2 separate regions of the Homo sapiens genome follow, and region 1 is linked to region 2. Evidence: fine-mapped expression QTL. A gene starts in region 2. The other region holds a variant in brackets. All regions are shown on one strand. Distances are from middle to middle. Region 1 overlaps SLC9A3 (solute carrier family 9 member A3). Region 2 holds the start of SLC9A3 (solute carrier family 9 member A3).

Region 1 (8,313 bases), 32 kb before region 2:
CCTGGCAGATTACGTGGTTCCTATGGGATTTTGTTGTTTGCTATTCACGTATTTATTTTATTTGAGATGGAGTCTCACTCTGTCACCCAGGCTGGAGTGCGATGGCACGATCTCGGCTCATTGCAACCTCTGCCTCCTGGTTTCAGGTGATTCTCCTGTCTCAGCCTCCCCAGTAGCTGGGATTACAGGCGCGTGCCACCACCCCTGGCTAATTTTTGTATTTTTAGTAGAGACGGGGTTTCACCATGTTGGCCAGGCTGGTCTCGAACTGCTGACCTCAGGTGATCCACCTGCCTCGGCCTCCCAAAGTGCTGGGATTACAGGCGTGAGCCACCGCACCCGGCCACTCATGTATTTTTTAGGAACTCAGGAATGGGTGGCAGTAACTGTGGGTCCAAAGTCACAGACGCTCTGGGGACCAGGAGGGCGGGATTTCAACAGCGCCATCATTAACCCTGAAGCTATGGAGTGGGCGGGCAGGGCCTGGGAACTGTGGAAGATACAAAGAAGCCTCGCGAAAGCTGCCAGTCGTTCTGAGCTGGGAGGAAGGAGGTGGAGGGACGGGACGCCCCCGGGAGGGGAGTTTGAGGACAGGGTTTCACGCCCTCCTTTGCTGACTGACCGATGGGGGGTGAGACGGGGCCCAGGCCTCCCACGGCTCGCCCGCTCTGGAGCGGTGGCTCCGTTGCTCACCACGGTGACTGCGTCGTTCAGCAGCGACTCCCCGAAGACGATGATGAACAGGACCTCGTTGACATGGACCTCCTCAAACACGGCCAGGACGGCCACCGGGTCCACAGCCGCCATGAGGCTGCCAAACAGGAGGAAGTCCAGCAGCCCAATCTGCAGGTCGCCTGGAAGACAAGCCGGGCCGCGGGGCAGCTGCAGGGCCTGCCACCCGAGGAGGAGGGCCCTGGGGAGGCGCTCGCCTACGGGTCGGGGTTCGGAGCCCGTCTGGCTGGCGCCGGTGGCGTGGGGAGCTGGGTCAGCTTCCTGCGTCCCTCCCACAGACCCCCAGCCCCCTCCAGGGAAGGCTGCTGTCTTCCGAGGGGGCCACCCCATCTGAGCAAGACAGACAGACAGACTGACCCTGGCCCTGGCCCTCTCCTTCATCTTTGGGTGAACGGAGGCAGGTGGGTGCAGGGGCACCGCATGCTGGGGAGGGATGGGGGCCCATCGCCTGGAGTGGCGTCCCAGCCCAGGAGAAGCAAGTGGGGCTGACCCAGGACGGGCCCGGAGCCGGGACACACAGCACCCAGGGGCGCGGCCAGGGAGGGGCAGGTGGGAGGGCCGTTGGGGGTGTGGGGGCAGATTGTGGGGATGAGCAGGGCTGCGGTGGGAGCAAGGGGGCCCGGAAGACGTGGGTCCATGTGGTCCCTAGCTCCCGGCCGGCTTCCCTCCCCGCATCTGCCTGTGGGCTCTGGTGCCCCTCGCTGGGGAGGTTTTACTGAAATGCAGCCTTATCCTTCACAAGTCTTTGCCATTCAACCCAGGGTTCAGGCCTCGAGGAGGCCACGTGGGGGTGCCAGGCTCCAGGGGACCCTCAGGGAACTGAGTGTGGCCACGTGGCCCCGAGAGTCTGCCCTCTCTCACGGCCGCAGGGCTCAGAGGACACTGGGCCTCCTTGCTGCCTTCCCGGCCGTGAGGGTCCAGGGACCAGGAGACGCCAGGGCCGTGAGGGTGTGGGAGAGACCACCCAGGGAGGGGGAGGCCCCCGACGAGTCCCCCCGCACAGCTGCTGCCTCTCTGCTGGGCTGGAGCGGAGCCCACCACCCCTCTGGGCTGAGGCTCGGGCTGAGGAGGGGTTTGTCCCTGGAGCCGGACGGGCCCCAGGAGACAGCAGAGAGCAGCCTGGCCAGGGGTTTCTGTGCTGGCGCCTGGGAGGGGACAGATCAGGGTCATCTCTGCGGTGACTAAACCCCGAGTTTGCTGTGAGCTCCTAAGCCCCAGCAGCCTCTGGCCAGTGTCACAACACCCCGAGGAAGTGACAGATGCCAGAAGAACCAGCGTTCAGGGAGTTAAAGTTCCATGTTGGAACGGGAACCACACAAGCCTTCTCCTCTTCCAAACTCAGGCCTCAGGACACGAATCCCCTTCAAGGTCATCTTTAAACGCGGCCTCCTGGCACGGCCGCCCCCAGGGCAGTGATGGCCCCCATGGATGTCCTGGGGTCGGCCGCGTTCAGACTCCCCGGCCGGCAGCCTTCCCGTCTGGACAGTTGCCCACGGCCGTGCCAGGAGGGCTCATGCCACCAGACCGCATGTTCCAGGCCTTTCTCCACCACGTGCTTTGCCTGTGCAAGGGCCTCTGATGCCTGAAGCTCTCGCAGGGCCTGTCCCCACACTGCCCGGACAGCCCCCGGGCCAGCACTGCCATGTCGACCCTTTCCCATGGGGCACGTTTGGCCTTGAGACGCTCCACAGGGCTTGGCCTCTGGTCTGCAGAGATCAGTTGCAGCCTCCCAGCTCTCTTGGACTCCCAGGAATGGGATGGACCTGCCGGCCATGGGCATCTCTGTTCCAGAACCTCAGGCAGCACCCAGCTTTGACCAGCTGGGCCCCAAGGCTGAGCGCAGGCCTCCAGCATCCGTGTCACCTGGGGAGCGGCCTGCCCCAGGGGGCACAGCGATACCTGGGACACGTGTTTCTCATGAGGAGCGTTGTTGGAGGACGGTAGAGTCCAGCGTGGCGAGGGGCAGGGGTGGAGTGCAGCGTGGCGAGGGGCAGGGGAGGGCCAGGGGTGACGTCCTGGTGTGGGGAGTCCTCCAGGGCTTCATGGTGCAGGTGCAGCAAGGACGTCCTCCAGGCTCGGCCAGTTGCACCGAGGACATTCTGCTTCGTGCAAGGGAAATCCGGCAGTGTCTCTGGCCAATGCTAGGCGGGGACCATTGTGACGTGGCCACAGAGCCACGGAGTGTGCCCGGCTCTCAAAGGAGCGGCCCTGACGGCCAGACTGATCACAGGCTACTCCATCCCACACTCGACACAGCTGGGAGGAAGCTGGGATCTCATGGGCGAGGGGCCATCTGGCAAGGTAGGTGTGAGCCTCGAGGGGCCGCGGGTCCAGGAGTCTCTGCTACAACCCCTGAGGCTTTCCCTTGGGTGCGGTGGCTAGGGCGGCTGCCCCATCCGAGGTGTGTCCTGACCACCTATGGCATCGCCCACGTGACGGGCCTGCCATCCATGAGCCTGTCTGTGCCCTCGGCAGCTTTCCCTGGGCTGCACCTGGTGGGTGATGCTGGACGGCAGGGACTACAGGGAGGGGTGAGAAGGCGCCAAGGAACCACGTGCTGGGTGAGGCGGCCCCAACCCGGGAGCTCCTCTTTCTCCATGCGTCTCCTTGGTCTCAGGTTTCAGCCCCTTGATTCCCATGGAGAGGCCGGGCCGTGCTCTCTCTTGAACCAGACGGAAAATCGCCAATTCTTGTGAGTCTGGTTCAGCTGGTGGATTTGTTTGAGGCTGAGTTCTCAGACCGGTGAGGGCGGCAGGTGCCGGAGGCCTGCGCTCAGCCGTGGGGCCCAGCTGGTCAAAGCTAGGCTCTGCCTGAGGTCCCTGGACCCACCTGGTCAAAGCTGTAGCATCCCCGGCAGCAGCGGCGGGCATCAGGGCTGCACCGCACCTGGCATGTTGAGAGGCGCCAGCCACGCGTGGTCTGGGTCCGGGGCGGGAGGCAGTGCCCGAGAGATGAAGCATCCAAGACCAAAACCGCGCAGCAGTTCTGGCTCCGGCTGTGGCTGCAGCGGTGGCCGAGCGGCTCCGGCACACAGGCTGGGAGGGACGGTGCCCGATACACCAGGCTCTGCAGTCCTCCTCCTCTCCCTGGGACCTGGTGGCCGGCGAGTGTGGACGGACCCCTACCTCTGCCCAGTGCCGGAGGAAGAGCGGCAGCCCCTGGCCACCTGCAGCCCCCAAGCCGAGCTGCCGAGATGGGAACTCCTCCCCAAGCAGAACACGTGCTGGGACCTGGGGACGCGCAGGGGACTGGCCTTGGTCACGAGGGCCTACGGGGCTGCCAGCCACGTTTCTCACCTGACACTTACCGCCTGGAGGCCAGGGTGCGGCACCCCGACCTTTCTGAGATGAGGCAGCGCCGCCCCTCCCGGACCCCACCCTGATCCCGGCCGGGGCAACAGTGGCGCAGACTCACCCATGAGCCCACTGAGGAAGACGCCGTAGAGGGACAGCCCGGTGGTGGCCGCGTTCCACACGGTACCCACGACGGCGTACAACAGGATGGTCCCCAGGTTGCCGAAGAAGAGGCGGTTGGGCATGAAGTAGCCGGCGTCCAGCACGATGGGGGGCAGCAGGTAGAAGAAGAAGACGGTGGGCGTCAGTGTGAAGGACGCGATGTGGTCGGCCGCCCAGACGATGCCGCCCAGCACCAGGCCCAGCACGATGAGCAGGGCGCTCTCGGGAACCACGCTGGTGACCTTGTGGGACAGGTGGAACCCTGTGGGGGAAGGGAGGGAGGTCAGGGCCGGGCTGTGAGGGAGGGGAGGGAGGTCAGGGCCGGGCTGTGAGGGAGGGGAGGGAGGTGTGGGGACTCGTGGGGGAGGGGAGGGATGTCGGGGCAGGGCCTGTTGGGGAGGGAGGTCAGCGGGGACTCGTGGAGGAAGGGAGGAAGGTGTGGGGACTCACAGGGGAGGGGAGGGAGGTCGGGGTGGGACCCGTGCGGCAGAGGAGGGAGGTCAGGGTGGGGCCTTGGGAGAGGGCAGGTAGGTGGGGGGAGCCCATGGGGGAGGGGAGGGAGGTAGGGGGGAACCCACAGGGGAGGGGAGGGAGGTCGGGGTGGGACCTGCGGGGGAGGGGAGGGAGGTCAGGGCAGAGCCCTCGGGGGAGGGGAGGGAGGTCCAGGTGATCAGGTCCCACAGGGCTCAGAGCTGCAGGCATCTAAGACCTCCCCCGACTTTTCAGGGAGCCCAAGAGGGCTGGGAACGAGGAGAGTGCAGGGGCAGCTGCTGGAGCCCCCAGAAGGGAGTCAGTTGGAGGAGGGAGCCGGTGCTATGGGGTGGAGGCCCGTGCTGGATGGACGGTGGTCGGGGGGGGGCCTCTGACCTGCCGCCCCACCGCCCGGCTGGTTCTGGTCCCCCGGACCCCCAACTCGCTCTGTGCCTTTTGCCTTGGTGACCAAGGTCTGAGCTCACCCTGTCCCTGACGTTGTGGCCAGAGCCTGCTCCCACTTGAG[G/T]CTGGCTGTGTTTCAGACCCCTCCGGAGGGGCCCCATGGAGGCTGTGGCCCCCTCTCCTCGTGCCCCTCTCCTGGGATCACGGCCCCTGGGTGGGGTGTTCTAGGAAGAGTCTCTGGGTCCCGCCACTCCACTCCGCACGGGTGAGCTTAAGGGTGGACAGCAGGTCCTGGGGACCCCCCGTGGAGCTTCACCCCGTCCCCCAGCACCATCGCCCCTGCCAGGACCTCAGAGGCTCTGCCCGGCCCTGTGGGTGGGGGTGCAGGCACCAACCTATCTGGGCCATGTCTCCTGTGTTTTAGTTGGACTCAGAAAAAAAAAAAAAGGTGATGAGAATTCCTGCGCTCGGCCTGATTTCAAAATAGCGGGAAGCCTGACAAATGAGGTGCGTCCTCCGGCTTCGGTGATGTAAGGGATAATGAGCTTCTTCATTCCCTCAGCTGCTGGTTATTAAGTCTTCTTTGAAATTCAAAGGAAAGTTGTCTCCTGAGATGGCCAAGACCCCATTTAAGCACAGAGCAGCGGGAGCGGGGAGGCTCCCTCCACACCACCCGCCCCCGAAGAATGTGTCAGCACAGCTGGAGGGGCGGTGGAGGCAGTGGCCACGTCCCACCCTTCCCGACTGCGTGGCCCTGACGAGCTCGGCCCTCCCTGCCTGTTTTCTCCCTTGTAATTACGGAGCTCTTGCAGGGCCGGGTGCTGGCCCAGAGGAGGGAGGTGCTGTTCTGGATTTGCCGTTCCTTCCCCGAGGATGGTCTTACACCAAATACCACGGGTGGCATGGGCCCCTCTAGGGAGGGTGGCAGGCACAAGCTCCGCACCTGCCCGGCCACCAGCACTGCACTGCGGTCTCCCGACCCTGTCCCCAGGACAGCGGCTCTGCCTGCTGCTCCAGATTCCAAAACACCAGCCCCGGGAGGGATCGGGGTTCAGAGGCTCCTGCTTTCAGGATGGGAGGTCCTGCTGTGGGCCCCGTCCCCACCATGTGCCCCACAGGCTCTCTGAGCCCCCCGACGGCTCCCCCACTCCGGGCTGCACATCCTGCACAGATCTGAGCTCCACACCTGTCAGGCAGGGCAGCGGGGGTTGGCCCGGGGAGGCTGGAACCACGCGACAGTGATAACCAAACCAGGGGAGGGCATGGCCTGCAATGAGGGAGGGCCTGGCCTGGAATGAGGGAGGGAGGCTGTCCCTGGGGAACACGGAGGGTGAGCTCCCTGGAGTCCTCGGGGCCCCGCTCAGAGCTGGCCTGCAGGGTCCCGTCTGCTCCAGCTTTCAGCAGGAGAGCATCCGTAGGGTTGACCTTGCTCTCTCCCCACAGCTCTCCCTTCTCTAGAAGGTGCTCCCCAGCTGGGAGTGGCTGTGATGCACGTGAGAAGTCCTGGGACCCTAACGCGTGCCCCGACAGCCCCGTCCTCAGCAGCGCCCTCCCCAGATCTGGGCTCACGGGGCTGGCAGCCCAGCAGGAAAACAGGGGCCCCTCTTCTCTGGGCTCCACGGCCTGGTCCCTGTGGTGGCCAGGGACAGACCTGGCCTCGCAGAGCTTTGGGAAGAGACATGGGTGGCCTTCCGGGCCTGCGAGGGGAAGGCTGTGGCCTCTGCTCAGGGCAGCCTGGGACCCCCTCCACAGCCGGGACTCAGCAGGTTCTAGGCTGGCATGGGAGTCTGCACACTAAGGGCTCCGAGGCCTTTGGGAGTCCTGCTGGGGGTCCCTATGGTGCAGGAAGGCCTGGGGCAGGTGTTCCCACCTCTGCAGCCTCCTGATTTTTTTAATAATGTCCAGAGAGAAGTGGAGTTTACCACTTCCTTCCTTTCTTCCTGAGGGCTGTAAATCCCCGCCTTGGTGTCCCAAGCTGTGTTAGGAAGACCAGGGTGGTCTGTGCCCGGTGCCGGCGCCTGCCCACCCGCAGGCTGACCCGCGCCTCTCACATCTGTCCTTGGCGACGTCGTCACCTCTGCTGCTGGCGACGAGTGCCTAGCAAAGCCGGGCACAGCCGTGGTGATGGTGACCCCCTGGAGGCTGCCCAGCCGCTGGCAAGACCCACCCAGGCCGCTGTTTTCTACACGATGCACGTTCTTTGCCTCTGCCCACGTCCCAGGCTGGCTCCTGGAGGGGTAATCGGCTCACCTGTCCTCCTCTTTTCAGGGTCACAAGACCTGGGAGATGGTATTTGTCCAATAGCGCTTGTGGAGCAGCCAGCGGGGCACGTGTGGCCCCTCGGTGCCCGCCGGCACGTGGGCTGCTTTGAGGATAAAATCCAGCGACCACAGAGACCGCGTGTCCCCAGGTGGGGGGGCGCCGTGGCCGCAGGTCAGACCTGGGAAGCAGCGGGAGTCTCGGAGCTCCTGGACGCCCTCACCCTTGGTGGCTGCCGACACTTGGCCCGGGGTCTTTTTGTTGAGGGTTAGGGTCTTTCAGCCACAGTCTTCCAAAATTAGGTTCACAGCGATCACCACCGTTGTGAAGCCACCCCAGACAACCGCGGGCCAGCAAGTCAGGGACACAGGGACACAGGGACCAGCTTTGTCTTTAAAAACAACAACGCAACTCTGTGCCCTGGGGACTCACAGTGCTCCCCGCGCCATCGCCGACCCTCCCCACGCTCCACTCCCCGCGCCATCGCCGACCCTCCCCACGCTCCACTCCCCGCGCCATCGCCGACCCTCCCCACGCTCCACTCCCCGCGCCATCGCCGACCCTCCCCACGCTCCACTCCCCGCGCCATCGCCGACCCTCCCCACGCTCCACTCCCCGCGCCATCGCCGACCCTCCCCACGCTCCACTCCCCGCGCCATCGCCGACCCTCCCCACGCTCCACTCCCCGCGCCATCGCCGACCCTCCCCACGCTCCACTCCCCGCGCCATCGCCGACCCTCCCCACGCTCCACTCCCCGCGCCATCGCCGACCCTCCCCACGCTCCACTCCCCGCGCCATCGCCGACCCTCCCCACGCTCCACTCCCCGCGCCATCGCCGACCCTCCCCACGCTCCACTCCCCGCGCCATCGCCGACCCTCCCCACGCTCCACTCCCCGCGCCATCGCCGACCCTCCCCACGCTCCACTCCCCGCGCCATCGCCGACCCTCCCCACGCTCCACTCCCCGCGCCATCGCCGACCCTCCCCACGCTC
Region 2 (8,313 bases):
GGAGTCAAGTGTCGGGTGAGGACGACCTCCTGCACCCACCCAGACAACAAGGAAGCACCCAGTGCCTCAGATTTGGGGCCGGGAGCAGGGAACCTGGCGCTCAGGGATCTGGGTCTTGACCCTGTCCAGTTAAGGAGGAGGTGCTGGAACCCCAAGGCTGAAGCTCCTGCAGAAAAGCATTCCCACACTCCCACAGTGGGGGTAACGCCGCTCAGAGGGGGGTGGGGGGGCTGCGCCGCTCAGAGCAGGGGGCTGCACTCCTGACCCTGTGCCCTAGCGTCCTCCTGACCCTCCTACGGCTGCGCGAGGCACTGCAGACTCCAGATACCCGTCTCGCTCCTGCCTGCCCTTCCAGCCAGGGTTCACCAAGATGTGGGGCGGCCTGGGCCTCCGCCATCACATCCCTCAGCAACACAAGCTCCACTTCGAGAGCCTGCCCCCACCGCCCCCACCCAGCCCCACTGTCCTGGTTTCCCCGTGGGCAGTCACTGCCGCTGCTCAGGTCCTAACCCTCAAGGCGCCACCTCCCTGAGCCAGCGCTGCCCAGCTCTGGAGTTCAGGCCCCATGGGATGTCAGCTCCCACACCTCCTGTGCGTCCACGACCCAAGGGGTACCCACGGCCAGACGCCTGGGGACAAATAGACCCAGCTGGGCCTAGAATCCACTCCCGGCCCCAGCCCCTCCCCGGTTTCCGACATCTCAAAATTGTAACTCCCCCAGTTCCCTTTTGGTCGGGTCCTGTCGCTCATGTGTGGCTCAGAGCTGCAGGGCGAGGTCAGCGCAGCAGAGCCCCCCGAAGGGTTGAGAACAGGATGGGGCCAGGAGGTCTGGCCCCTGCTGTGTCACTGATGACCCTGTGACATCCCCACTCCTGCTTCAAGGAGGCCCTGCTGTCCACCGCCCTGATGCCCAAGGGAAGCTCCCCACCATCCTCCCGGAATCTCCCCGGTGCCATTCTCTGCCCCATGGCCAGGCAGTCGTCTGAGAACTCAGATCTGACCACATCCACTCCTCACCACGACGCTAGGTGGGGACCAAAGTCCTCCAAGGCCTGTAGCTGAGTTGCTCGGGCCTCCCTCTGCCTCCCCAGGGACCCACCCTAGGCCTCCTCCTCTGGCTTCTGACACCCCCGCCTCCCTCTCCTTCCAGGGGCCCATTGCTTGCAGTCCTGACACCTGCCACTGCCTGGATCCCACCCCAGGGCCCCCACCCAGTGCTGCCAGGCCTGGCAGTCTCTGCAAGGCACAGCCTCAGCCCCCAGAGGAAGCCCAGGAAGGAAGGAAAGCCTGGCCCAGGGTTCCCAACACGGACGGTGCAGGGTGAGGCGGGGATTCTGGTGGGCACCTAAGGCCTAGAGTGGCCCTGGTGCGGGTGGCTGCAGGCTGGGGGCCCCCAAGGGGCACAGGAGGAAGCCCCCTCACCCTGCCTGAGGCAGACACTAGGCCCTGCCGCCTCCACTGCTAAAGACTTCCTCGTCCTCTCAGTCTGGGAGGTCTGCGCTGTGGAGTGGCTCCGTGGCCTCGGCCCTTGCCTCCCCTTCTGCATTTTAAAAAGATGCTGTAAAAGGCAGGGGAACCCCAGTGCACACAAATAGGGGGCTTGTGGGGAGCCCTTGCCGGAGCCAGACACGCGGCCTGAGGCTGGTGGGCCAACAGCAGCACCTGTTCCTTGCCCAGGCTCCTGGGCCACCTGCTGAGGCCCCAGCCCCAGTGTTTGCTTGAGGCAGCTCTGGCCCTCTGGCCATCCTCTGTCCCAAGCTGCCTGGAGTAGAAATCTCCTGGGATCAACATTGCTGTGGGTTTCAGGGTACCCGGACTCTTATTTCCCCAACCAGGTTACAAATGGCTTGAAGAAGGCTGGGGCTGTGAGTTAGAAACTCTCAGGATGTGTGAGAAATTCAACAAATGTTTGGAAAAGCAACAGGAATGGCAGCTCTTTTCTGCTGGAAGAGACATTTCTGTTCGTGTAACTTGAGACTGAAAGAGTGTGGCCAACCCCTGACCATTTTAAACAACAAAATGTGCCAAGCAGCTTAGTAGGTTCAGACCCCAGTCCGGGGGCTGTGGGCATGTGGAGGAGGCTGGGTGAAACTGGAGAAGTTCCCGCTGTGGTGCAGGCTTGGGCCCCGGTGTCTGTGAAGGCCTGGACCTGAGGGTCCTCTGGGAACACAGGTCGTGCACCTGAGGCTGGCTGCACAAGGAGGACGGTCTGGGCCAGTGGAATCTGAGAAGTCCAGAGTTCACAGGGAAGGGGTTGGGGGAGGAAGCACACAGGGAGGGCTGGGGGCTGTGTTCAAGAGGTGTGGCTGGCAGAGAGGGGATGGAGGGTGGGACACCCTGGGGGCCAATCCGGGCAGACCCAGAGCAGACCTCAGCTGTCACTGCCGGGGCTGCAGAGTGCACAGTGGGTTGAGGGGACGACAGGGAGCGTAAAGGGCAGGTCTGGAGAGGGTCTGCGCCTGTGGGATACCGCGATGAGCTCCCACAGCTGCACAGGGTAAGGCTCGCCTTCCCAGGTGGAGCCAACAATCCGAGACAAAGACAGCCGCTGAGTGCTATCAGGGTGGGCCTTTGTAAAGGACCGCCCTGCCCCGGGGAGTTGCTGCTGGAGCCGGCAGCCTCCCCGCCCTCAAGGACGTCTTCCCAGAACCAGTCCAAGTGTTTGGGAGACCTGAAGGCTTTTCCCTGTGAATAACAAACTCTGAGGCCAGGCAAAGCCCTGGTCAGTGTGCCTTATCTGCCGGCTCCCAGGCGGGGCTGGCTGGTGCCTGGCGGCTGTCATTGGACCTTCAGATGCCAGATTCTGACTCTGTACACTGGGCTAAACTGGGAGAGGCCCCAGCTTGTACAGAAATTAGATATTCACGGCCGGGCGCGGTGGCTCACGCCTGTCATCCCAGCACTTTGGGAGGCCGAGGCGGGTGGATCACCTGAGGTCTGGAGTTCAAGACCAGCCTGACCAACATGGAGAAACCCTGTCTGTACTAAAAATACAAATTAGCTGGGCGTGGTGGCTCATGCCTGTAATCCCAGCTACTCGGGAGGCTGAGGCAGGATGTGGAGGTTGCAGTGAGCCGAGATCGCGTCATTGCACTCCAGCCTGGGCAACAAGAGCAAAATTCTATCTCAAAAAAAAAAAAAAAAGAAAAAAAAAGAAATTACCTTTTCAGTTTACACCAGGGGGGCACTCCCGTCAGAGGAAAGCAGGGTGAGCTTTAGGACTGGGCGGCCGCAGAGCCCAGGTTGAGTCTGGACCTCCCTGATGCCCCAGGGGCCCTTCTCAAGGAAATCAACTGTAGGAGGCAGCCAGCCTCAGAGACTCCCCCCCGGCCAGCATCCCAAGCCCCCAGTGGAAAGCCCAGGGAGGACAGCCTGAGCCTGGAGAGCAGGCAGCCCGGCGGGGAGCTGAAAGACACCAGGGCGAGGAGGAGGCTGCGGAGAAGGGAGGAGGCGGGAGGGCTCAGAAGAGCCCTTATGAGACAGAAAGCAAACACACAAGGGGCCTGAAGGGGAGGGGAGACCCTGGCATAAATAGGGCAGGCGGCAGGCGTCACTGAAGGAAAAGGCGCCTTCTCCAATCAAGCCTGCTGGGCGTACCAGGTTCCACCAAGGCCAAGGTCCTCTCAGCTGTTCTCCCCGGAGCCTGTCCCTCCCCTGTCCTGCGTGGGCGCCCCTCCTCGGCCCCAGCATCGAAACCTCCTCTCGCCCCAGTCCAAAGCTGCTCTGGAAACCTGCCGCGGCGCCTGCTGCTCTGATCTTGCTTCTCCTGGCCCCACTCGGGCCCCCTAATCCCCCCTCCACACGAGTGACCACCTCCCTGCCACCCCTGGAGAGACCCTACCCTGTGGACCAACACATGAAACTTTGATCCCCACGAGCTCCTCAGGAAGCTGACCTTCCTGTCACCTTGCCAGGAGCTACCTGCCGTGCCCACATTACTGGTTCATTGGCGCCGGTTAAGAAGAAGAGAAATCTGACCGACCGGGATTTTCTAAAAAAAAAAAAAAAAAAGGAGGCCCGCCAATGGGAACGCTGCGCCTGTAGGGAGGATTCTGCTGGGTTTCATGCGGGTAGCACCGCTTTTCTTTTCTGCCCTTGTAACTCACGAAAAAACGCCATCACTCCAAGGACGTTTCTCTAAAAAGCCTGAGAACCCCGAAGGAAACCCGGCCCCGGGGACTCCCTGGGCGCGAGCAGCCTGCAGTCTGCGGGGCTCGGAGCGGAGGCGGGGCGGAGACCCCACAGGGACCCGGGAGCCGGGAGTCCGGGGCTCCGAGGCTGTGCCCCCGCCGGGGAGGGGAGACCTCGGGACCCGCAGGGGCGGCTTAGCGCGGCCAGAGTCGCTCCCGAGTCTCGCTCTGCTGGACCCGAGAGCCGGACTCTCCCGGGCGGCCGCCGCGCGGCTCCGACCTGATGCGCGCGGCCACAACGAAGCCCCCAGGCCCAGCAGAGGCGGCCGCACACCCCGCGGGCAGATCCGGAGACCCCGGGGCCACTTACCGATCTTGGCCAAGCTGGCCACGAGGATCCAGAGCGCGATGACGTAGGGATCCTGCACGTGGGCCCACTCGAAGGTGACCACCTGGAAGCCCCCGCTCTCGCCGTGCGCGCCGCCGGGCTCCACCTCGACGCCCCCGGCCCGCGCCAGCCCGCCCAGCGCCAGCGCCAGCAGCAGCCCCCGGTCGGGGCCCCGGGCCCCGAGTCCCCACATTGCCGCCTGCTCAGCGCAGGGCTGGGACGCGCATGTCGCGGGGGGTCCCGGCTGGGCTGGGCCGACGCGCGGGGCTGGGACCCGGCGAGGACCCGGCGCGCTCCGGTGCCGGTACCGGCTACAGTCCGATCCCCGCCCGCCGGGGTGGCCTTTAATCCCGCGGCCCCCTCCCGCCCCGGGGCGGAGCCTGCCCGCCCCCGCCGCGCACTCGCGAGCGCAGACACCGCCGCAGCTCCCGGCACGCCCGCCCCGCCCGCGCACGCCCACCCCGCGCTCCCTGGTGCCCACCCTCCCCCGGAGCCCGCGGCCTGGAGGTCCGGGAGGTCGCGGCAAGAGCGAGCCCGGGACTGCGCGGCCGCCTTCCTGGGGCGTGGGGAGCACAGCGCGGGGCAGCGGGACAGGCGGTTCCGCGCAGCTCCTGGGATGCCCGGGCAGCTGTGGGTGCGCTCGCCCCAACCCTCCTTCATAAACGCAGGGCCTGGGGCTGCGCAGACCCCACAGGGCGGCCCAAGGGTGCACAGGGGCCCCAGGTGTGTCTTCACACAGCCCCTCGCTATTGTCTTCAGCAGGAACCTGCATTCCACAGCCGGACCGGCCACTTACCAGAACTCGGGGGCGCCCAGGCCTTGCGTGGTGCGCTGGTAAGTCTCTCTGCCCCTCCCATCGCCAGCCAGCATCCCCCACCCCAGGCTCTGAGATGGGAGCCCAGGGGCCCCCGTGGTCTCCCCTGCCCCATCCCCTGCCTTTAGACCTCCGCCCAAAACAATTCGATACCCCCAGGGCTTCACACGGATGCGGGGCCTCTGCCCACAGCCCGCTCCGGCAGCACTGGCTCTCTTAAGCATCTCAGGCTCCACTGTGCAAACCACACCCCTGTTTTCCTCCAAGCCCACCCTGCAGCCTTCCAGCCCCAGACCTGGGACGCAGGTGGACTTCTTTCGCTCACAAGGTTTCCAAGCTCTTAGCATATCTGCTCTACTTTCAAAATGTGCACAAAACCAGCGGCTTCTGGGAGCCTGCAGCCACCTGCAAAGGCTCCTGCTCGGCCCTCTACCTGCCCCTTCAGTCCCTCCTATTGGGACCCTCCCTCTCAGAGGAAAGGCTCAACGTCTCCCGGGAGCTCAGACCCCAGCCACTGCCTGACCCCCACCCCCATGCACTCCACGGCCCACACCAGCAATCGGCGCCTCTCGGGGCCTTTGCACGCCCTGCTCCCTCTGTTTGGACGGCTCTTGTGTGCTCCCTTCCTCAGCTCCCCAGGGGCTTGGCTCCAATGCCACCTTCTGGTCCCACCCGATACCCACTCAGCTCACAACTGTGGCAGCTAAGCTCCCGCCTCCCCTGCTTACTCGGTTGGCTCCGGGAATCAGCTCACCTCCCAGCCCTGGGGGCTGCTGGCTTTGACCTTGAGCTGTCTGCCCTCACCCTGGGAATGTCTGCTCCACGAGCAAGGGGCTCATGCATACATCCCAGGAGCTTGGAAGATAGCTGGGCACACAATAGCACTCGCAAGATAGTGGCTGAGCGGATGGATGATAGATGGATGGAAGGACAGATAGGTGGACAAAGGGCAGGTGGGCGGTGGGGTGGGTGCAGATGGAGGATGGATGTGTCTTCTGACATCTGAGTGGGGGCTGCGGAGGCCTGAGGAGGACAGTGCTGAGTTCAATGACTTCACCCTGCAAGGGCCCCAGTTTCATGCTAATGGAAGTGGCCCGTGTAGCACAGGGAAGGTGCATTCAGATGGTGCTCGCCTGGTGACTCGGCTGCTGAGTGGCGTGGAGGGAGGGCAGCCCTGGCCTGGGCCACTGCAGGGTCTGGACAGGGCACCGGGGGAGTGGAAGTGTGTGACTGGCCACTAGTATGGTCTTGCGAGGTGGGAGCATCGGAGTCGCTCTTGGCCTGTGTCCCTGCCCCACCTGTCTCTGTCCCCCACTCCACTCCCAGCCTCTTGTCCCAGAGAAAAAGCCAGCAGGACAAGAACAGGATTCCCTCCAGTCCGGAGCTTCCCTGCTCTTTCCTTATGGTTCCTGGGTGGAGCCGTTAGGAACGACGTCCTCTCTGAAGATGTTGCCCTTGCATTCCACAGGAAGGCCAAATTTCCACCAGACCAGTGTGTTCCATGATGCCCACTGGACCTCCGGCCACCCCACCCCCCAACCAGCCTGTCCTAAGAGCCGACAACCTTTCTCCACAAAGCTGTTCAAAGGGCAGAAGAGCAGTGTCACTGCCTGGAAGGACAAATCCAGAACAGACACCAGTGCCAGGCGCTGGCCATCAGGTAGTGTGCTGCCCACACCTCCACTGCCCCCCACAGCAGGAAGGGCTGCCTCATGGAGAATAGAAAGGCAATGAGCCCCTGAAGTGGCGTGGCCAGAACAAGGCACACCCCACTGCCCACGAGTCCTGCCAGGGCACACCCCACTGCCCACGAGTCCCTGCACAGGTGAGAAGTGTGGCTGTTTGGCAGCATCTCAATCTGTGAGCATTTGGAGGATGAAATGCGTCTGCACTCCAAGGTTGCTGGAGGGCTCGGGGCAGACGGGCGCTGCCCCAGCCTGTGATGGGCATGGCCTTGAGGATGCCAGCCTCATGCAGAAGCCAGTCTAGGGGATTATACAGGGTGTGCACACCCACTCCCCTACCCTCGGACTGGAGCCACAAAACCCTCCCTCTAACTGGGTCGTGGTTTTAGGCAGGGCCGTGGCACCCCACCACTGCAGGGGCCACCATCCATATCAGGCAGACTGTATGAACCGTGCCCCTTGGAATTGTACAGTGCACAACCTGCACATCCTCATGGCCAAAAAGACCCAGAGACTTGTGTGTGTGTGTGAGGGGGTCTTGGGAAGTATCCTGAGAACATTCCTGTCCTGTGGGTGGTGACGATCTGATAACTGCCCGACCACTTCCTGCCTCAGGCAGGCACGCATAGCATTCTGGATCCTTCCACCGTGGCCTGGACCCCTTGTGGTCCAGGGACCCCCTGCACGTATGGGGAAGGGGCGTGGCTGTAAAACATTCAAAAATGTGGAAATAATGCAAAAGCCAGTCGGAAAACAACTGTAATCTTATACCCAGCTGCCACAGCATCTGAACTTCAGGATTAAGAAAATAAAACTGAAAACACCTAGTCTGTCACATTAATTTCCTGTCATGAATTCCACATACGGCTTGTGAAAGTGTCTTGTGGATGAAGAGGCGCATCCATTCATACTGTTGTTAACAATATTTAAGAGAAGAAAGTTAAGTTTTTAAGTAACTTCCAATGCTTGAAGCCAGGCAGGAGACAGGCATCACTGCCCACTCTAAGTTTATTTTTCAACCCAAAGTTGTCAGGGGCCAGGTCTTCTTAAGGAAGGTTTTATTCCACTGGGAGCCACACCTGCTGGCCTTCCCTTGGTCCACACCTGCTGTGTGCCAGGCACATCTCAGCTTCAGGCAAGAGGCCCCTCTGGGAGATGCCCTTCCAGGAAAGAGACCACCGCGCCCCCCCGTCATGCCACCTCCCGTCAATGCCACTCTTATTGGTTGTTGGATCCGGGGGATACAAATGTCTTTCTCAAAAGCAGATTAGAGCTCAGCCCTTCCCTTCCCGGGTG

Evidence for each region.
Region 1: its variant is fine-mapped to the expression of SLC9A3 in substantia nigra (GTEx, PIP 0.98).

What each region holds. Positions count from the first base shown.
Region 1 is chr5:487,623-495,935 of GRCh38, forward strand. It overlaps SLC9A3 (solute carrier family 9 member A3), which reads right to left. Exons shown (of 17, transcript NM_004174.4): 2 at 4,147-4,449; 3 at 694-854. Among named protein-coding and RNA genes, the nearest start is that of SLC9A3-AS1, 19 kb to the left of the region's middle. The variant G/T (reference allele first, on the strand shown) is at 5,185.
Region 2 is chr5:519,612-527,924 of GRCh38, forward strand. SLC9A3 (solute carrier family 9 member A3) reads right to left here and starts at 4,838. Exons shown (of 17, transcript NM_004174.4): 1 at 4,501-4,838. The coding sequence starts at 4,711. It overlaps LOC107986395 (a long non-coding RNA gene), which reads left to right and starts at 5,047. Exons shown (of 2, transcript XR_001742543.1): 1 at 5,047-5,352; 2 at 6,801-7,844. RefSeq lists an enhancer at 6,405-7,037.